Homo sapiens: one gene and its partners. The protein of the gene in region 3 purifies or fractionates together with the protein of the main gene of each other region. This does not show direct contact. Each region holds a gene or a part of one and is shown on either strand. Other genes may lie near its edges.

Region 1 (8,412 bases), on a different chromosome or scaffold from region 3:
TTCTTACCTACTTATAGAGCCATTGCACTTTTTTGGTACCACACAGTGATAATGTTTTACTTTGAACTACAAAAATCGCAATGCAGATAATGCTGCTGGAAAATTAAAAATAGATATTAAAAAGACTTCTAAGTACTTAAATATTCTCTAAGGGAAAAGCTCTAAAATTGTTGACATTTCTTTACTTGTTCTATGAATACTGAAGTGTTACATTTCTTAACTAATGTTTGCTCCAATAACTAGGCACTGGACATTATAGCTCTATGCATGGATTAAAAGAAGAAGTGTCGTTTCCCAAACATAAAACAGAATTTGCTACTTGTGTGCTGTTGGGGATTCATGATTATTCTGTCCATAGAGAGGGTACTTTTTCAGAAATCCGGAAATAGTATGGAACCCTCAAATAAATAAGCAGCTGAGGAGTTTGGTGTTACGGAGTGTGTTGTATTTTTACAGGTGCCACTGATTAATGAACTTGAATCAGCAATACATCAGCTGTACAAACAGCGAGCTTCCCGCCTTGTCCAAAGACGACAAGATGATATTAAAGATGAATCTTCGGAGTTTTCAAGCCATTCAAGTCAGTCCATCTTGAAGGTTTTTATTATTCATTAAACAACCTTGTTTACTTAGTGCAGCCTAATTGAAAATTAGAGATCTTGGAGCTTTTTTTTTTTTTTTTAAAGAAACAATTTCCTTGCTGTTGTGTCAGGTAGATCTAAAAATGGTAACAGCATGTACTTGAATTGTGTTTAAGAAAATAGAGCTTCACAAAGGAGCTCAAAAACGTGCTAAGATTCTGTCAGTCTTCTTATTCTTTGGGCATATTTTTTCATTCTCCTTTAGAGTATAGAAAAGACATTATCCGTATTTTATGTTAAAACCATTATCTGTTTGGCCCTAATTGGTTTTTTCCCCCATTTTCATTCAAAACACCAATACAAATAAATGCTTTTGTTGATCACAGTGAAAGAGTTTGAGTTTAGGGACTGGGACATGTTGTGGGTAGGGGGAGGGAAGCTATAACTTAACAAATGACACAACTCCAAGATAGGAGAGTTTTGAGCTTCATCCTTTGGATAAAGCAAACTTTTTGTAATTTCTTTTTAAATGTTTCTCTAGTTTGCTTTATGTACTGTGTTTTTTAGTAAGTCAGTTGGTGCTTACAATTCTTGAAATTTTGTATACAAATGGATAGAAATTGAATTTGTACTTCCATCATTATGACATGTGTTATGGAAAACCAGAATTAGAAACCTCTTGTTAAATAGTTCAGCGGAGGTCCTTTAACTGGATGTTTTAAACCGTTTAGTTCCTTTTTTTCCGTTACCCTCCATATTCTTGAGTGCGCTAATAGGAATTTTCCTAGTGTGAATTCCTTGTGGTTTCTTTTGTCATTTCTTTGTTCCCTTTGTCAGCATTTCTCAAATGGAAGTGTGCATCACAATTACCTGATACTCGTTTAACATACAGATTTTCTGGTTCTATCCCCAGTGATTCTTACTAGGTCTTCAGCATCCAGAAATTTGCATGTTAAACAATCTCTCCAGGTGATCAAATGCAAATAGCTCTAATGTTATTCTTTCAGAAAGCAATGCTTTGCTATACATGGTCTCTAAGTCAGAGAGACATAGGATCCCTGAAAAAGCATCCTCCTATATGTCAGATGGGTTTTGGAGAGGCATAAACAGATGGTAATACGGCCCTCATAGCTGAGGTAGTCTCAGCTATGAGCCCTATAAATGGCTATGACCTTCTGTTTTTGCCACTGAATTTTAAATTGGATTATTGACATTAGCCACCTACATGACTCATGCATCCCTCCCAGATCACTTTTGATCCAGACAGAACCAGATTTCTGGGGCAGATTACAGGTAACCATTATACTACAAAGGGAGGTAATTTTCTTTTAAGTTAGATGGTTTGTGTGAGCTGTACATTTCATCAAATACCTTTTCCCATCTGTAATTTGTTCTTGAGAATATGGAGCTATTTACTTAGAGGGGATTTGAAAGAAGAGTTGAATTATTTATATTAGTTTGATTGAAAGTTGGAAAGAAATTAAAAGATACTGGGAAAGTGAAAAATACAGTCCTAGAGGGAGTATACATTAATTGCCAAAGATTTGAGGAAAATGACATGGGATGCTGGAGAATCAATTCATTTTCTGATCTGTTTTTTAAAGAAGTAAAGAATAGTCTGAAATTCTTCTGTTTAGATTTATAAGCACTTATCTGCAATTACTGTGTATAATTCTTACAGAAATGGAGGAGGCTATCACTTGAGTCATGTTAGACTCACCTGTCTCCTCCAGTGCACATTTTACAAAACCTATACATGCAGTGATGTTTTAAGTATAATGTTTTTTTTTTTTTTTTTTTTTTGAGACGGAGTCTCGCTTTGTTGCCCAGGCTGGAGTGCAATGGCGCAATCTCGGCTCACCGCCACCTCCGCCTCCCGGGTTCAAGCAATTCTCCTGCCTCAGCTACGCCTGGCTGATTTTTGTATTTTTTTTAGTAGAGACGGGGTTTCACCATGTTGGTCAGGCTGGTCTTGAACTCCTGACCTCGTGATCCACCAGCCTCAGCCTCCCAAAGTGCTGGGATTACAGGCGTGAGCCACCGTGCCCAGCCGTATAATGATATTTTTAAAAATATTTCTTGAAGGAAAACTCTTGAGTCTGGAATTATTTTTATAGTTTGGGATATTTTAGCTAATTCATCTGGGGTGTGTAGTGAACTCACATCTAGGGCTGGGAAATCTTTCTGGTTTAGTAATTTTTCATTGTAATTGATGCACTCAGGAACATACCTCCTTCCTAATTTCAGAGCTATTTTGAAATATGAATGAAAAACTCAGTAAAAAAAAAAGTCAACTTTTAAAAATAGTAGGGTCTGGTCAGGCACGGTGGCTCTCGCCTGTAATCCCAGCACTTTGAGAGGCCGAGGCGGAGTTTGAGACCAGCTTGGCCAACATGGCAAAACCCCGTCTCTAAAAATACAAAAATTAGCTGGTGGCGGGTGCCTGTAATCCCAGCTACTCAGGAGGAGGCTGAGGCGGGAGAATCGCTTGAACCTGGGCGGCGGAGGTTGCAGTGAACTGAGGTTGTGCCATTGCACTCCATTCTGGGCGACAAGAGCAAGACTCCGTCTCAATAAATAAATAGATAGATAGATAGTAAGGTCTGATAATTAGGATATTCTGAAGTAAGAGCTAAATTTTGGTTTTGTTTTTCCTGTTGCTGATTTTGGTGACACATCTCTGTTGATATCAGTAAATATCAATTGATAAGTAAAAAAATATGCAAGTCTTAACTTGGATGTCTTTCATCTTGCATGTGCTCACCTCCCTCCCCTCTCACCCAGTCGTTTGGGTTGTTTGCCTCCCCTTACTGTCATATCTTCATAGTGTGGAACTAAAACGTAGAAATGAGGGAAGTATAGTGGACAGATGTTTCCCCCACCCCTTCTTTTACCTAGGCAAGAGATTAGGGGAGTCTTTTTTGATTAAAGAGAGTAGGTCCAAAATAAAGACCCTGAAACACTAAAATCTGGGGATCCCCAACAAAAGAACTGGCTCAGTACCTAGTGATCCGACGGAGACACCTCTGTTAGACAGCTCCTGCCCACACACACAGCTTCCAGTCTTGCTCTTCTATATGAACAGGCAGTTAACGATGATCATAAGGACCAACCTGAGCAGCAGAACCAAAGGGACTGAGGAAACAGACAGTGCTGGTACAAGTATGCAAGTTTTCTGTAAACAGATTACTTTCAAACAGTTGGGAGCCCCAGGGAGATAATAGAAGGTATCCTACTCAACAGGAGTATATAGAATGCTGTAGAAGAGGAATATTGTAAGAACAAGAACTATCTCTTGAAAACTAAAAATATGATAACTGAAATATAAATTTAAATAGGATTGGAAGCTAAAGCTAGGAAATTACCCTAGAATGTTTTTTGAGAAATGGAAAATACGAAGACCAAAAAAATAAAATAAAACTATGCTGTGAAAGAGAAAGATTAGCATTTGAGAAGGCGGAAGTTGGTCCTGCTCAGATGCGGTTTTCAGATGCCTTATTCTAAAAATAGTGATAGAAAACAAATTTCTACAAAGCAAAATTACAATAAATTTATTAAACTCTTGCAACAAAGCTGTTTTCTTATGTCTTCCTATGTTTTCCTGCTGTCATTCAATGTGATGCTGAAGTTCTTCCTCCTTAAAAATGTAATATTTTTCCCTTTGCACAGGTAATTTAGAGTTTTAATTTATTTGGTCATCATGATAGCTATTCCTGATAGCTGTCCTGTTACTTAGACATAAAAATAGTGAGTAAGCCCAATTACATATTTGTAGGGTTGTTGAACTCTTAAAAAGAAATCACTTCTTTAATTTTTCTACTTTTTAAAATGGGAACGCAGAATAATAATGAAATTTGTTCTAAACCAAAAACCTACCTGGTTTACCAGTTATTGCAGAATCTTGCCGTTGAGATTAGCAAGCAGTCTGTCGTAATGGCTTATTCTGTGCAAACTCTTTCCTCAAGATTGTTGAAAGATGGCTTTTAATTTTAACTGTTGTTGTTTTGCAGACAAAGCTCTGATGGCACCAAATCTTGACTCCTTTGGACGCGATCGGGCACTGTATCAAGAGCATGCAAAACGTCGCATTGCAGAGCGGGAGGCCAGGAGGTAATTCTCAAAACCCTTGCTCTGGCTTGTTTGGGAAGGGAGGAGTCTCTGTTATCTAGTTTGGGAACTTGATGTTTATTATTTAGGACTCGTCGTAGACAAGCCAGAGAACAAACCGGTAAGATGGCAGATCACCTTGAAGGCCTTTCCAGTGATGATGAAGAAACTTCTACAGATATTACTAATTTCAATCTGGAAAAAGGTTAGACATTTATTTGGAAATAAGACTCATCATCAGTTTAGTTTCTACTTGGGTATGGTTTTTACCATGAAATGATTTGAATCTTCATGGTCTCTGCATTAGAACCAGACACTTCTTTTTTAATTGCAGAAATTTGCATGCCTTTTTATTAGTGAATATCATGATGAATTCTCAAAAATAGGGGTAACATCTTCTCATAGGGTGTACTTAGTATTTGCATAATAAATGTTGTTACTGTTCCAAATGGTAGAATTTTAAGTGACTGGAAATGTGTCAGGTCCTTGAGGGCAGCTCTCATTGCAGCCTGTCTGGTCTGGAAAGGTAAAGCTTGGCAGTAGAGCACTCAGCCCTGAAGGAAACTCTTGATTTGGGGAGTCATAAGTAATCTCACCTTAGAGGAATGGTTAGTACTATTATGTGCCAGGCATTTTCAGAAGGATCCCAAATAAAAGTCTTCATTTCCCACCATTGGCTATAATTGTTTGGAATTATATCAATTGCACACCATTTGGAACTTAGTTGGAGAAGCTTCTTTCTCTTACTTTTTTTACAGTGAACATTTCTAAACAAAATTTGAAAGACTAGCACAGTGATCATCCACATACCTATCACTCAGATAACAATGCTTATGATTTCACCAAGTTTGCCTGGCTCTTTATACAAGGAGATGTGTGTGTTTGCTGAACCATTTGAAAGTAACTTACAGACCTCATGGCTCTTCACTCCCCAAAATTTCAGAGTGTGTTTCCTCTAAATGAGTATATTTTTCTGTATAATCACAGTATTATTATCTTTTTTCTTTTTGTTAGATGCCTATTCTGATTAAGTATTTCTTTTTTTAGCACAATAAGAAAACAGATTTCTTAATATCATGTCCATATATAATTTTTCTCAATGGCATCCTGGAAAAACCCTTTTTAGGAACTATTTTTATGGGTTATTTTGTGGTTTTTGAAACCAGGATCCACCTAAGGTTCATGCTCTGCATTTGGTTATGACATTTTTAAATCTGGAATAAATGAGTAACCCTAAGTACACATTCACACACCCACCCCTATTGTTCTTTAAATTTTTGAAGAGACCAGGCCACTTCTCTTATAGACTGTCCTATATTCTAGACTGGTCTGTATGTTTCCTCATAGCATTGTTTAACTTGTTCTTTGATCCATTTCTTGTAAACTGGAATTTAGGTCTGAAGGCTTAATTAGATTTAAGTTAAACTTTTTTTTTTTCTTCCCCAAGAATAATTTATACAGGATGCTGTTTCATACTGCTTAAAAGCACATGACAAATGTTAGACTGTCCCCACTATTAGCAATGTTAAGATTGATCTTGCAGTAAAGGTTCTCAGAACTTTATCTCTCCATTGTAAATATTTCCTTTTCCCAAGTAATCTGGGACATCATAAGAGTATCTTATTCTTGGTTGGGCACAGTGGCTCACACCTGTAATCCCAGCACTTTGGGAGGCCGAGGCAGCGGACCACTTGAAGTCAGGAATTCGAGACCAGCCTGGCTCACATGATGAAACTCCATCTCTACTAAAAATACAAAAATTAGTTGGGCATGGTGGCGCATACCTGTAATCCCAGCTACTCAGGAGGCTGAGGCAGGAGAATCACTTGAACCTGGGAGGCAGAGATTGCAGTGAGCTGAGATCGCACCACTTCACTCCAGCCTGGGTGACAGAGTGAGAATCTGTCTCAAAAAAAAAAAAAAAATCTTATTCGCAAATAACTTTTCACTTAAAGTTCCTAGCATCCATTCAGCTGATAGTTGGCTATGTCAGTTATTATAATCACCAACAGAGTTTGAATGAAGCAATGTGATTAGTGACTGATTATGATGCACAGCTGTTAATCTGTGCAGTGATCTGTGAACTAAAAAGCTAGCGGCACAATTACTTATGGCTAATACACCGTAGTAACTGAAATTTGAACCATCTTGTTTGGGAACAGGTTTTATTTAGCCAAACTGTGGTAGAAAAATTGTATATACTGGAACTGCAAAACAAGGACTGGCTGCACTTTAGTTTACATAATAGACAAATTGAAACTTCAATTTATTTTTTTCTTCTAAATTGTGACTAACAATTGGCCCTTTGTTAATGAGCGTATCTTCTGATACTGAAGCTACAAAGAAAACACTGAAAATATTGGACTGTTTTTTTCCTACTTCATACTAATGTATGGTTCTCTGTGGGGTTTTGTTGTTTTTAGATCGAATTTCAAAAGAATCCGGCAAAGTTTTTGAAGATGTCCTTGAAAGTTTCTATTCAATTGACTGTATTAAATCACAGTTTGAAGCATGGCGTTCAAAATACTACACATCCTACAAAGATGCTTACATTGGCCTTTGTTTGCCAAAATTATTCAACCCCCTCATACGACTTCAGCTCCTCACTTGGACTCCTCTTGAGGTGAGTGGCTTCTGTCACTATTAGAAAGTGTTATAATTTGATATCTGGGTAATTTTAATCTCAAAGCTAGAGATGTAAGCTTAAGCAAAATATTTTGCAGGGGTGATAGGGCATAGGCTATAATTGATAGATTGTATCTGGTTATAATCTTATGATCTTTCCTTTTAAGTTTCATGTCTTCCCAGCAGAGCTATGTGTTTTTTTTGTTGTTGTTGTTGTTTTTTCAGTTTACATATAATCCTTTTTTCAGCCAGCTGAAATTATATGCAGTAACACTGGGATATGAACATGAATAGTAAGAACTTGGTCCTTTGATCCTAGAGGAACTCAGAACCAGATGGGAAAGCACAATGAGGCAGGTGTGAAATGAGGACATGACCCAAGTCAGTTGTCATGGTGAGAAAAATTGATAGGCCAGGCATGGTGGCTCATGCTTGTAATCCCAACAGTTTGGGAGGCCAAGGCGGGAGGATTGTTTGAGCTCAGGAGTTCAAGACCAGCCTGGGCAACATAGCAAGACCTTGTCTCTACTTAAAAAAAAAAAAAAAAAATTAGCTGTGGTGGCATGTGCTCATATTCCTAGCTACTTCGGGGGCTGAGGCAGGATTGCTTGAGCCCGGGAGATCAAGGCTGTAATGAGCTATGATTGTGCCACTGCACTGCAGCCTGGGTGATAGAACAAGACCTGCCACAAGAAAAAAAAAAAAAGATAAGGAGGTGGAATCAAGAGGACCTATTGGCCTGTCATATAAGGGAGGGGGCTAGAATTGACTCTGGAGGTCTAGTGGTGATGTTTACAATGTGGTTTTAGAAGTTACCAACGTGGGTGAAGCTGTAGACATGGTTGAGATTGGCTAGGTTGAATTTGTGAACTATAAGGAAAAGGGAGCTGAGGTTGATGCCATGGAAACACAACTGAAAAAAATGTGAGCTCTGAGAAGCATTCAGCTCACAGCTCCTATTTCCTGTGTGCTCTTGGCCAGACCTTCTGAAGTTTTGCTGTGTGCATGAGTGTCTTGGTAGATAGCAAAGGCCCAAGACTGTATTTTGGAGTTATTTTTCTGTGTCCCCCACTCCTCTGCCCCACAGTTTCCAGCTGTG
Region 2 (5,253 bases), on a different chromosome or scaffold from region 3:
CTGAGGCTCCAATCACTTTTGATGCAGATTCTTTTCTTAATTATTTTGATAAGATTTTAGGTAAGTAGTGGTGTGATGTTGACTTTCATTTTGAAACTGTTAGTAGTATGGCTGTTGCTAGAGCATTGGTTTATGAGATATCTCAGAAGCCAAAATGTTTGCTTTCTCTTCCTGGTTTGAGTTGCTTTCAACCATGAATTACTACCCATGAATAATTTTGTAGAGGCTGCCTAGCTTAGTGTTTGACATATATAGTAGCTGCTCATTAATTTTTTTTTTTTTTTTTTGAGACAGTGTCTCGCTCTGTTGCCCAGGCTGGAGTGCAGTGGCACGATCTCGGCTCACTGCAAGCTCCGCCTCCTGGGTTCATGCCATTCTTCTGCCTCAGCCTCCTGAGTAACTGGGACTACAGGCGCCTGCCACCACACCCAGCTAATTTTTTTGTATTTTTAGTAGAGACGGGGTTTCACCGTGTTAGCCAGGATGGTCTCGATCTCCTGACCTCATGATCCGCCCATCTCAGCCTACCAAAGTGCTGGGATTACAGGCGTGAGCCACCGTGCCCGGCCTCATTAAATATTTGAGAGTGACTGAATGCTGTGTGTTTAAATAGGGTTTTACCTTGGCTCCCATATTATATTGTTCTTTTTTGGAATTACTGTACTTACAAATCAGTAATAAAAAGATAACTCAAAAAATAATTATAATATGTATATATGTACAGAACTGCAGAGAGAAAGATTGGGATACCCGGAAACTGCTAAAAGATGCTTACCTCTGGGGAGAGAGTGAGATTGGAGACAATACTTGTATGGCTTGAATGTTTACATCAAAATGTATTCATTTATTAGGTATTTTTAAAAATTTTTTAAGAAAAATATTTTAATTAATTGAATTCACTTTTTTTTAAGCTAAATCTTTTGATTCAGCTTGTACGCTTTTCCACAACATTAAATGCACACATATCTGCCAGCATTACCATTTGTAGAAGGGATTTTTGTGAAGTAGACTGACTGTGTGTATTAGTCTTTTTCTGTGGGTAACATTCTAATTATTTTGAGATGTGTAGTAACTAAATAATAATAATAATAATAATAATAATAATAATTACTAAGTGGCTCTTTCTTTCTTGGGATCTGTGTAGGGCCAAGGCCTAATGAGTCAGATTCTGATGATCTGGATGATGAAGACTTTGAATGTTTAGATAGTGATGATGACTTGGACTTTGAAACACACGAACCTGGCGAAGAGGCTTCCCTGAAAGGAACACTTGATAATCTCAAGTCATACATGGCCCAGATGGACCAGGAACTAGCACACACCTGCATCAGCAAAAGTTTCACCACTAGGAACCAAGTGGTATGTGTGTTTTTAACCTCTTTCTCTTTCTGAGTCTAGTATGTCAGATAGCTAAAACCATATTTTATCATAGTTTTTCTTTTTTTGGTGTGTGAGATTTGAAATAAATAAGAATGTTAATTGTTTTCCTAACTCTGGTAGGATAAAGGATCATAGACTTAATTTTCCAAAACATAAGCTTCATTATATTACTTATTCTACGTTATCTATCAGGATTTAAAATAAAAAGTCATATAATATGCTCAAATTAGAATGCGATTGTACACTACTACTTCTTAAATACATTTTTTTTCAAAAGTAGTTTAAAAAAACTACAGCTTAAATGGATTTTAAAAAAGAGAGGGCACATGTTCTCAAGACCTTTTGAGACTATGCCTTGGGCCACAGTGGATTAAAACAAAATAACATAAGTAAATAAACAGGATCTTAAACATTCAAATAACTTTCCAGTTTTAACAGTTTATTTTGTATTTTTCCCTAATTTAGAGCCAAATTTAGGATTCACCTTCCGTTTATGTTTTCATCCTAGTTTTTAATGCCACCACTGTCTAATCCTAAACAGAGGTATTATGGAAAGAGCAAGAACCCTGGAGTCTTATGGGTTAGGGTTTGAAGTCTAGCTCAGCTGTCCACTGTGAATGTATCTATAAACCAGTAATCCTCATATCATAAAATTAACATGAGAACCAAATTAGACAGCAGTAAAACCTACAATAGGCCTTTAATTAATGTTAATTCTCCTTGCTTTGATCATCTAAACCACTTTTAAAACTATAGTCACTTCCAGAATTGTCAAAATCTAGTAGAAACCATACATTAGATTTATCTAAAGCAGTATTTCTTAAATTTTAATGCGAATATAAACCAAAAGATCATGTTACAACATAGATTCTGATTAAGTAGGCCTGGGATGAAGCTTGAGATTTTCCTTTTTTTTATTATTATTTTGTTTTATTTTATTATTATTATTATTATTTTATTTGAGATGGAAGTCTCCCTCTGTCACCCAGGCTGGAGTACAGTGGCACGATCTTGGCTCACTGCACCCTCTGCCTCCTGGGTTTAAGCAATTCTCCTGCCTCAGCCTCCCAAGTAGCTGGGACTACAGGTGCGCACCACCGTGCCTGGCTAATTTTTGTATATTTAGTAGAGACAGGGTTTCACCATGTTGGCCAGGCTAGTCTCTGGAGCTCCTGACCTCAAGTGATCCACCCACCTCAGCCTCCCAAAGTGCTGGGATTACAGGCATGAGCGACCACTCCCAGCTGAGTTTTTCCATTTCTAATAAGCCCCAAGCGATGGAGACTCTGCTGCTCCATGGACAATGCTTTGGGTAGCAAGGACATAAAAGTCTATCGAGCTGTAATCTTTCAAATCCTTTCCCCAGCTTGTGGAATCAGAGGCCCAACTAACAATTTAGAATCTTTGTGGTTGGAACCACAAAGCCTTGTGTTTTTACTTTTAAGCTTTTTCACTGGGGGGAAAGAAAGGAACACTCGCTTCTTTCATTTTGAAGAAAATTTACATTATTATTTCATTTAATATTCACTTTTATGTTTGTTTCTTTTAAGACTCTTAGACAAGTTATAAATGTACCTTCTTAATTCTATTAGCCCTTGAGCTATTTCAAAATAGACATGCAATTTATTCGATTTGCAGGAATCTTTCCTGGAGAGAAATGTGTTATAACCTTTAGAACCAAGTTTTATTATGTGTGCTAGGCCATATAACTTGTAGACTTCATTTTCAGTTTATATCACCAAGGATAAGAAGTTTCCTTTTTAATTTGGAATGCAAATTTACATTGTGGCTTAGTTATCTTTTTATTGTAACCACCATGCAACCTAATGATACATTAGCCCATAATTTTCTTTTCCCTCTATGAATAAGGAACCTGTATCCCAGACTACCGATAACAATTCAGATGAGGAAGATTCTGGTACGGGAGAATCTGTTATGGCACCAGTAGATGTAGACCTGAACCTGGTTTCAAATATATTGGAATCCTATAGCTCCCAAGCTGGACTGGCAGGACCTGCTTCCAATCTTTTACAAAGCATGGGAGTGCAGCTGCCTGACAACACCGATCACAGACCAACAAGTAAGCCAACAAAAAATTAACCAGCACATTTAGCTTCTCTTTTTTCTTTTTAAATAAATATTGAATATGATTCTGTTCATTTCTAGTTTAGATTACTCATTTAGTAAAAATGTTTCTTCATTACAAGTTTTACAGATTGACTTCTCCATGAGCCCCAAATGTGGCCCTCTTGGCACAAGTCTTTGTGATCTCAGCTGTGGGTTATACACAGGTTTTGAACTCGGCAGGGTAGAATCTAGCCCCTAGACAACCTTGAGATGAAATTCACACACTTCATGCTAAAGACATACCCTACCACAATATACCCTTGGAGTAATTCTAAATATTTAAATTTCTCCCTTACTGCTATTCATCCTCAGATCAAAATTTCAAGTTGACAAATTTGGATTTGAAAACTCATTCACTTTTTCAATTTTTTTAATGAGGCATAACATGCATATGGTTAAGTGCACAAATCTTAAGTGTACAGTCAGTGAATTTTTGCATGTATGTATGTACCTGAAGCAAGATATAGAACTTATTTACTTGTAAATAACAGCTATATTGATATGTCACATACCAAAAAATTTACCCTTTAAATTATACAATTCAGTGGTTTTTAGTATATTTACAAAATTGTGCAACCATCCCTACCATCTAATTCTAGAATATTAGAAACCCCATACTCACTAATAGTCTCTCATTCCCTTCTACTCCCAGCCCCTAGAAACCACTAGTCTACTTTCTGTCTCTATGGATTTGCCTATTTTGGATATTTCATACCTGATACTGTACTTAATTGTTTTAATTAATTAATTGGTTTGATATTTAATATAACTGATATATCTTTTGCTAAGATGAAATGTTTATTTCTTAAAATGATGCTCATATTCCTCCTAAAATAAATCAAGTATTATCTATATATCATAAAATTCACCATTAAAAGCAAAAAAAAAGTCTTCTTTACAGACAGCTCCATATACTGACCATGTTTTTATAATCTAGGTCTCTGGATTCTTCTTTATTATTGTATGCAGCAGAGAGATGCCTTTACTATATCTTACCCTATCCAAGTAAAAACAATGGAAATAGTTTCATACTGTTCCCTCTCCAGTGACCAAGGGAGGAATTAGGAGAATGGTGTAGTAGAGTTCTCATCTGAGAACTTACTATCACGAACTAATAAAAACTGAATATGGCCGGGCATGGTGGTGGGCGCCTATAATCCCAGCTACTTGGGAGGCTGAGGCAGGAGAATAGCTTGAACCCGGGAGCCGGAGGTTGCAGTGAGCCAAGATTGCGCCATTGCGCTCCAGCCTGAGCGACAAGAGCGAAACTCCGTCTCAAAAATAAATAAATAAAAACTAAATATACCATATCCCACTCCAATCCTTTGTCTTCCTAGTGTTCACTGAAATGAACTAAGGAAGAGGATAAGTGTTACACATTGACTAAAGTAACACATCAGATGATATTGTGCAACATTTTAACATTTTAAATAATAATTATTTTAAATATATTTTTATTGTTTGTTTTGAAGCTACATTTCTCATGTTAAAAATGGGGCCAGAATGCCGTCCCAGCTCAACTGTGAGAAAAAGGTTTCCCCCCATCGCACTTGTGGTACATTAGGTTTATCTTCATTGAGGATTAAATATTGGGTAGAGAAAGGGTGATAGGCAAAAATATAAATGAAATTTTTTTTTATTCTGGTTGCCACGGCTGACTGACTTTCAGCCAGGCTCACAAGATTTTACCTGTTTTTCTATTCTGCATCATGGACCCAGATGGGTTCTATTTATCCTTAGCACCTT
Region 3 (8,412 bases):
ATACTTACCATTCCAAAAATCCTAGGGTCCGTAAGAATTATGCTAAATCTACTCTGCCTGTGCTCTAGAAATGGAAAAACAAAACCTTGATGACAGCACATCTCTTTATAATATGGTTTACTGAATTATTTTTAGCCCACTGTTGAGACCTACTGCTCAGAAAAAAAAAGATTCTTTCAATATATTATTGCTCATGGACAATACACTTGGTCACCCAAGAACTCTGATGGAGATCTACAAGGAGATTAACGTGGGGTTTTCATGCCTGCTAACACAACATCCATTCTGCAGCCCATGGATCAAGGAGTAATTTCTATTTTCAGTCTTATTATTTAAGAAATAACAGCCAGGCGCAATGGCTCACACTTGTAATCCCAGCACTTTGGGAAGTCAAGGCAGGTGGATTGCTTGAGCCCAGGAGTTCAAGACCAGCCTGGCCAACATGGTGAGACCCCATCTCTACAAAAAATACAAAATTTAGCCCAGTGTGGTGGCATGCACCTGTGGTCCCAGCTACTTGGGAGGCTGAGGTGGGAGGATTCCCTGACCCCAGGTAGGTTGAGGCTGCAGTCAGCCATGATTGCACCACTGCACTCGAGCCTGGGTAACAGAGCCAGACCCTGTCTCAAAAAAAAAAAAAAAAGTCAAAACCATTTGTAAGGCTACAGCTGCCATGGATAGTGATTCCTCTGATGCATCTGGATATTGTAAATTGAAAACTTTATGGAAAGGCTTCACCATTCTAAACACGTTAAGAACATCCATGATTCATGGGAAGAGGGCAAAATATCAACATTAACAGGAATTTGGAAGAGGTTGATTCCAACCTTCATGGATGACTTCGAGAGATTCAGGCCTTCAGTGGAGGAAGTAATTGCAGGTGTGGTAGAACAAGCAAAAGAACTAGAATTAGAAGTAGAGCCTGAAAATGTGACTAAGTTGTTGCAGTCTCATAAAAATTGAACAGATGAGTTGCTTCTTATTGATGAGCAAAAAAAGTGGTTTATTGAGATGGAATCTACTTCTGGTGAAGATGCTGTGAACATTGTTGAAATGTCAATAAAGGATTTAGAATAAACTTACTTGGTAAAGCAGCAGCAGGTTTAAGAGGACTGATTCCAATTTTGAAAGGAGTTCAGCTGTGGGTAAAATGCTATGAAACAGCATTGCAGCATCACAAAAGAGAAATCTTTTGTGAAAGGAAGACTCAATGCAGCAAACTTCATCGTCTTATTTTTAAAAATTGCCACAGCCACCCCGCCTTTCAGCAACCACCACCCTCATCAGTCAACATCCATCAGCATCAAGGGCAGACCCTTCACTGGCAAAAAGATTAGGACTCACTGAAGGCTCAGATGATTTTTAATGTTTTTAGCAATAAAGTATTTTTAAATTAAGGTAGGTACATCTTCCAGACTCCTGTTAATGTTGATATTTTGCCTCCTCCCATGAATCGTGTACTTAATGGGATCTAGATTTTTTTAGACATAATGATATTGCATACTTAATACTAACTGTAGTTAGTGTATAGTGTGAACATAACTTTTATGTGAACTGGGAAACCAGAAAATTTGTGTGACAATTTATTTTGATACTTGCTTTGTTGTGGTGGTCTGGAACCAAATCTGCGGTATCTTCAAGGTATGCCAGTAGAATGAGTATGTGCTAACCCCATGCACTGTCGCAGGCTCTGAAAGGACGAAGAGATGGATCTCCAAAATGCCATGTTCTTTAACACTTCCTGCCCTATTTTCACAAGTTACCATCTCTCCGAAACCCTTCAAAGCTCTCCAAACAGTTACTCTTTCTGTTTTTCTCTTTACCTTATCCATATCTTATCTATAACATTCATTTTATATTGCAACTACTTGCTTTCCTGTTTATCTTCACCACTAGATTGAACTCTTTAAGTTAGTATCTTAATCCTTCCGTATTTTCCCAGCACCTAGCACAGTGCCTGGCACGAAGTAGTGGGTAACAGTTGTATTTGTTGGTGACTGTGCTGTTATCAGGTTAGACTTCGTGGAGGAGGGATATTTAGATAGACTCTCGAGCATGGTTAGGTCAGCAGGTAGAGATGAAGAGAATGGCATGGGTAAAGGTGTAGAGATTTGAGAGTCATGGACTGTATGTAGAAGTGTTAGAGGGGCTAGTGGAGGTGAGGCCATGTGGACTATTTAGTAAGCAACAGGGAGCCATTTTTTTCTTAGAGGTAACACAGGGAATGACTGATCCCCATGACTAAAAATAGGGATGATGACAAAGAGGGTAAGGTTTGAGAAAAGGGACATAGATTGAGCGATGAGGAGAAGATGAGACCCAGCTTTACCTTGCTTGAGGTCCTGGTGATGACCCTGTATGCACAGTTGACAGCTTGAAGGTTACAGCTTGGAATGCTATCTTAAGAGAACTTCGGGAATCCTTTCCAAGTAATATCAGTGATTTTCGCTTATTTATGTACTCAAGGGAATTTCCCTTAGAGAAGTACGCCATGTTTCAGTGTGAGAACCACTTCATTTTTAATCAGTTTGGCAATATACAGTATTCCCCCATTATGTTCCAAGACCCCCAGTGGATAATACTGAATTCTATATATACTATGTTTTTTCCCATACATATATACCTATGATGAAGTTTACTATATAAATTAGGAATATCAGCAGATTAGTAACTAATAATAGAACAATCATAACAATATACTCTAGTAAAAGTTGTGTGAATTTGCTTGTTTGCTTGCTGTCTCTAAATATTTTATTGTACTGTACTCACCCTTCTTTCATACTACAGTTGACCACAGGTAACTGAAATTGTGGAACATGAAATTGAGGATAAGGAGGGGACTACTGCAGTCAGGATTTTAGTCATCTATTAACAAAAAGAAATGAGTTTCATGGGAAATCATTCCATAATTAAGCTAAATCATCCTATTCACTTTTATTTTTTTTGAGGCGGAGTCTTTCTCTGTTGCTTAGGCTGAAATGCAGTGACTCGATCTCAGCTCACTGCAACCTCCACCTTTTGGGTTCAAGCAATTCTCCTGCCTCAGCCACCCAAGTAGGTGGGATTACAGGTGCCCACCACCACACCGAGGTAATTTCTGTATTTTTAGTAGAGACGGGGGGTTTCACCATGTTTGCCAGGCTAGTCTTGAACTGCTGACCTCAAGTGATCTGCCTGCCTAGGCCTCCCAGAGTGCTGGGATTACAGGCATGAGCCACTGCGCCTGGCCCTATTCACTTTCTTGAGAGTTAATTCAGAAATGTCTCTGAACAGTCATCAGTGGCTACTGCCACTGTCCTTAGACTATTTCTCTTGTTTTCCAGGCAGTCACATTTAAAAAGAAAAAAAGAGAAGAGAGTCAGAATTAATTATTCTCAATTTAACAAACAAAAGGAATGATTTTATTTCACTTTCCCATATTTTTGGCTAAAAATACTTACTACCTATTTGTGGTCATTTATTGGAGACTTTCAGAGAAAAATTGGCAGAAACTGATGAATAATCAGTGAACTAACATAGATACCATTAAAGAGAATGTACTTGTGCAGTGATAGAGCAGACTTGAGAACTTGAGTTATAGTTAAAATGGCACAAGCAACTTGCCAGGGCTTCATGTAGTTCATCATTTTCCATTCTGTTGGTCATTCATGAGTAGATCAACAAATATTTCTGGAAGTCCCTGCTGTTTTCCAGGCTTTGTGCCTCTCCAGAAGGCACTTGCCCAGTGGAAACCAGCAGAAAAACATTGGTACCACAGTGCAATACATGCTACCTATGAGCTATGCACAGTGTAAGAAACAAGAGAAGGTGAGATTTAGGTAAGCACTTCTAGAGGCTCTAAATCTGGAAGGCAGCTTGAGTAGGAGTTGCTCAGGGGCTGTGGGGCTTAATAAGCCGTAGGAATTTGTTCAGAGACAGGGGAAGCAAAGGAGCTAATATATTTATAAATCTCCAAGTACTCAAACCTTGCCATGCCAGAGTCTAGATGCCATGAGAGAGTGGTACAGGATAAAGCTGTGGTTATGGGCTGAGGCTAATTCTTGCAGGGCTTTGTCGCCTTGTTTGGGAGACCAGGAAGTCTCTATGAGAAGTGGAGTAATGAGTGATTGTGTTTGAATAACATATGAAAACATATTTTGGTATGCATACCTTTCAACCCAACAGTTCCACCTCTAGTGAACTGTTAACATTAAAAGTTCTTGCATACAAGTTCCCAAAAGTGAGCAAAAATGGGTGCATGAGGTTTTTTCATAGTAGAAAAAAATCTGGAAACGAGCAAAATTTGTATTTACAAGATGCTGGTCAAATAAATCTTGAGGTGACCATATATGTAATTAAATGCAAGGCAGTGATTTTTTAAAAATCAGATAATTCTATATCTTAAAGTACTGTACAAAGATATTTTTTGAGTTAAGTTGTGGGAGTGGGGCTCTTACGGTGTCTCACATTTCAAAAATCTGAATCAACTGGCAAAATATTACCATCTGTTACACATATACAGGGAGTACATGGTTTCTGTTATGTTATTCTCTGTACTTTATGTTTGAGAAATTTCATAAATAGGGAAAAAGCAAGTCACAGGAATAAGTACAGTGTTGTTGGTATACAAAAAGTTTTATGTACCTACATAGTTGTATAGACGTGGAAAATAGCTGATAGAATATCCACCAAACTGAAGCTATTAGGAGGGGGAAAAGATGAGCAGAGGTGAGAGAGAGAGTACGTTTTACTTGCTGCTTTCTGTACTTTGATGGTGTTTATTTCTTGTCTAACTCAGAGAAGAGACAGGCAAAAAGTGCTGATGAGGAGCAAACAACTGACATGGCACAGTGCTGCCCTGAGTAGGCTAGGAGTGACAGCAGTACCCAAAGCAGAGGGTCCCTCACACTAGTAACTACAAGCTGGGTCCTGCTGAGATGGAAATGAATCCCACCGGACAGGCACTCCAGGCTGAATGGCAGTTAAACCTGTTCCCTTGTGTGGCAAGCTAAGTCTCTTTGGAGTTACCTTAAAATTCATTGCCCTTATTTACTCAATAAAGATACCCTTCTCATAAATAATTACAGTTTCTCTTAGAGGCAGTGGTTCTGTTTGTCTCAAGATCAGTGATCTACACATTGTATTTGTGTTTTTCCCTAGAGAATTCAGCCTCAGCCCCCAGATGAAGATGGGGATCACAGTGACAAAGAAGATGAACAGCCTCAAGTGGTGGTTTTAAAAAAGGGAGACCTGTCAGTTGAAGAAGTCATGAAAATTAAAGCAGAAATAAAGGCTGCCAAAGCAGGTAGGTCTAAAAGTAATCTGGTTTTTCTAACAATTTAAGGAGCCCAGGGTATGAAATTGTTTATTTTATTTAGTAGTGTGGTGTGTTTCAAGGTGGCAGTTCCGGGTTCAAGCCTTAGCTTTGACACTTACCAGATGTGTAACCTTGAGCAAGTTATTACACCTCTCAGCCTCGATTTCCTCATCAGTAAAATGGAAATAATTGTACCTATTGGGTTGTTACCAGGATTAAGTGTGAATTTAAGTAAAAGCATCCTATTTTTTTTTTTTAAATAGATGGTTAGACTTATAAACCAGTCAAAAAAGGTGTATTTCATTACTGCCTGAAGTTTGGTATGATATGTAGTATATTTTTCATTATTTCTGAACATTTACTACATTGCTTTAGGGGAAAATGCTGTAGTTCCAAACAGTCACTTTTCAAACTACTTAAAAATACAACCTGATTGTAATTGGGAACTGACAATATTATAGAATACTTTAGCATGTGAGTTTTTATTAAGTAACTGCATGCCTTGAGGGCAATATAGCTAGAAACAATGGAGAAGACCAGACTGAATCAGATTCAGGGATATCCTTAAATACAATATGAGATTTTCTTATTATTTGCTTCTAAGGTAAAGGCAAAATAATGAGGAGAAGAAAGTTCTTAAAAATTCTGTTTTTGCTCAGATGAAGAACCAACTCCAGCCGATGGAAGAATCATATATCGAAAACCAGTCAAGCATCCCTCAGATGAAAAATATTCAGGTTTAACAGCAAGCTCAAAAAAGAAGAAGCCAAATGAAGATGAAGTAAATCAGGACTCGGTCAAAAAGAACTCACAAAAACAAATTAAAAATAGTAGCCTCCTTTCTTTTGACAACGAAGATGAAAATGAGTAAGTGTAAATATTTTGAATTTAGTCTACTTTGAAAGTATATGGAGTGTTCATTAAAATCACATTTTTTCCTATTATAAAGATACTACAAGTTCTTTATAGAAAGTTTAGGAAATAGAGAAAAAAATTTAATAAACTACATCTATTCATCAATACCCCTCTGACTTAAAATGCCAACTCTATAGAAATTAGCTAGTATTAACATTTTGTTATTTCCCTTGTGTGGTTGTATATATATGTAAATTATATTTTTAAGCAAAATACATTTTTTGTGTGTAAACAAAATTTTATAAATACAACTGTATTGCAAATGTTCTTTGTCCTGCTTCTCACTTGACATTGCATTACGAGTATTCTTCCAGGTCAGTAAATTTCAAAAACCTGACATTAATAGCTACAGATAATTTCATAAACATCTCATTGTATCTTTTTCATTAGCAATAGCTCCACTTTGGGTGGGGGAGATGATAATGTGCCTTGTTAAAAATACCTCCCCAACTCCTGCTAAGGGTGGCCATGAGACTCAGCTCTGGCAAGTTAAGAAATACAGGTGGAATTCTGCTTGATAAAGCTGCTGGGTTTTTTGTTACAAAAGGACAGACTTGGCAAACATGAGCCTTTGCTCTTATCTTTTCATCCTACTTGGAGTGCAGAGATAAAACCTGAGTACCAGAGCCACTTTTAGGCATAAGGAAGGCAGCCATGTGCTTTGGGTCATGTTAGTAAAAAGACTCAGAGCTTGGCTCCTTGCTGACATGCCTGGAGGAGCTGCTACACCAGCTTGGATTGCTGACCTCTGACTTCTTGGTAGTGAGAAGAATAAACACTGTGCTTAATTAGGCCTTGGTCAGGTTTCTTTTATATGCAGCCAAATGCAGTCCTAAGTAATACAATAAATAACTGGTCAAACTGTTACTGGTGGAGGGTGTCCAGGTTCTTGGCATTTTGGACAAATAATTGAACAAAACGCACAAAGCAATGAATATCCTCTAGAGGTTTGCCATTGGTTACTTGGCGTACACCCTGTGTAAATGAAGTAGTGGCCCGTGACCTGTCTGATTGGTGCAGAAAGTGACCAATCAGAGGCTGAAGTGAAGTTACAAAGTTATACTCCTGTGTAAATGAGGACTTGGCCTATGACCAGTCTGATTGGTTGCAGGAGGGGACCAATCAGAGGCACTTTCATTTTTCATCTGCAATGCAGAAAAGGCAAGGGGATTGCAAAGGGAGTAGCCTCTGATCCTTTTGTTACTTAGGTATGGAGAGGTGGGGTTTTCCTTTTGATTCAGTTCTAGGAAGTCAATGTGAATCAGCCTTAGGTTCCCTGTCTCCAGACCCTATTCTCCTGCCTCATTTTCCCCCTGAGAGACGTGATCCTCGTAAATCTTTATGGGAGGCTGAGAGACTGAGGGTCTTTCTTCTGTAACTGCTTCATGCTAACTTGGGACACAGTCCCTACCTATTGGAGATCACGTAACTCTCACCCTGCTTTGTCTAGGGGAGACAGGGTAGCTTCTTGATGGCCGGTGGTGTCTTCTCCTGAAACTGGCTAGAAATCTTGTCACATGATCATCTAACTTGGTGGTCTCTAGGCAAAAGGAAATGGATTTGGTTAAAAGATTTAACAGATATGGTCCAAAAACCAAGGCAAATATAATCATTAATAATGGGCTGGCCAAGGGAGGGAGCCATGAAACCCAACTTAGTGCCCTTTAGGTGCCCCAGCTGTTGTCATATTTTAGAGGCCCAGTCAGCTAGTTTTCAGGTGGTGTCCCTTACTAATCCTGATTGGTTGACATCAAAACAGCATTCTTCTTCTAGGAAAATACATAAGCCACCTGTTTCAGCAGTTAGGAGATCTAGTCCCCTTCGATTTTGCAAAGCGACCACTGCCAAGGAGCCTATCCGAATTTGTAAGGTGACAATACTTTGAGCAATGTTATCCAGGCTTTCCATAAAATCCTTGGACAAGCGTTGGTAATAGGATAGGGAAGTTGCAATCCCGCTAACTCCCATTCCTACCTCTGCTGTTATTCCTAGCCGTTGTGTCTGGTGGTTGCAGTTAAAGGTATAATGAGGGATTGGTTGTTGGGAGCTATATTAATTTAGGGACATACAATATTTCTGTCTCCAGTCTACCACTTCCACCAAAGACAAATCACAGCAGAACCGACCTAACTTCAAAATAAACTGCAGTCCCATATACTGGGCCTGATTACCCACACAAAGTGCAACAAGAATCATTGTCC

Evidence for each region.
Region 1: the proteins of KIAA1143 (region 3) and PAXBP1 purify together in Homo sapiens (affinity purification with mass spectrometry; 2 studies listed by BioGRID and IntAct, with this or other methods). This does not show direct contact.
Region 2: the proteins of KIAA1143 (region 3) and ECD purify together in Homo sapiens (affinity purification with mass spectrometry; 2 studies listed by BioGRID and IntAct, with this or other methods). This does not show direct contact.

Annotation. Positions count from the first base shown.
Region 1 is NC_000021.9:32,747,398-32,755,809, reverse strand, and holds part of PAXBP1 (PAX3- and PAX7-binding protein 1), read left to right. Parts: exon of another isoform or gene 1-456; coding exon 457-580; exon of another isoform or gene 581-3,694; intron 3,695-4,457; exon of another isoform or gene 4,458-4,556; intron 4,557-4,591; coding exon 4,592-4,691; intron 4,692-4,777; coding exon 4,778-4,893; intron 4,894-7,111; coding exon 7,112-7,311; intron 7,312-7,561; coding exon of another isoform or gene 7,562-7,597; exon of another isoform or gene 7,598-8,412. UniProt on the Homo sapiens protein: Adapter protein linking the transcription factors PAX3 and PAX7 to the histone methylation machinery and involved in myogenesis.
Region 2 is NC_000010.11:73,132,810-73,138,062, reverse strand, and holds the end of ECD (protein ecdysoneless homolog), read left to right. Parts: coding exon 1-60; intron 61-1,144; coding exon 1,145-1,359; intron 1,360-3,249; coding exon 3,250-3,480; 3' UTR 3,481-4,395; downstream 4,396-5,253. UniProt on the Homo sapiens protein: Regulator of p53/TP53 stability and function. Inhibits MDM2-mediated degradation of p53/TP53 possibly by cooperating in part with TXNIP. May be involved transcriptional regulation. In vitro has intrinsic transactivation activity enhanced by EP300.
Region 3 is NC_000003.12:44,751,096-44,759,507, reverse strand, and holds part of KIAA1143 (uncharacterized protein KIAA1143), read left to right. Parts: intron 1-5,139; coding exon 5,140-5,284; intron 5,285-5,900; coding exon of another isoform or gene 5,901-5,955; coding exon 5,956-6,167; 3' UTR 6,168-8,412.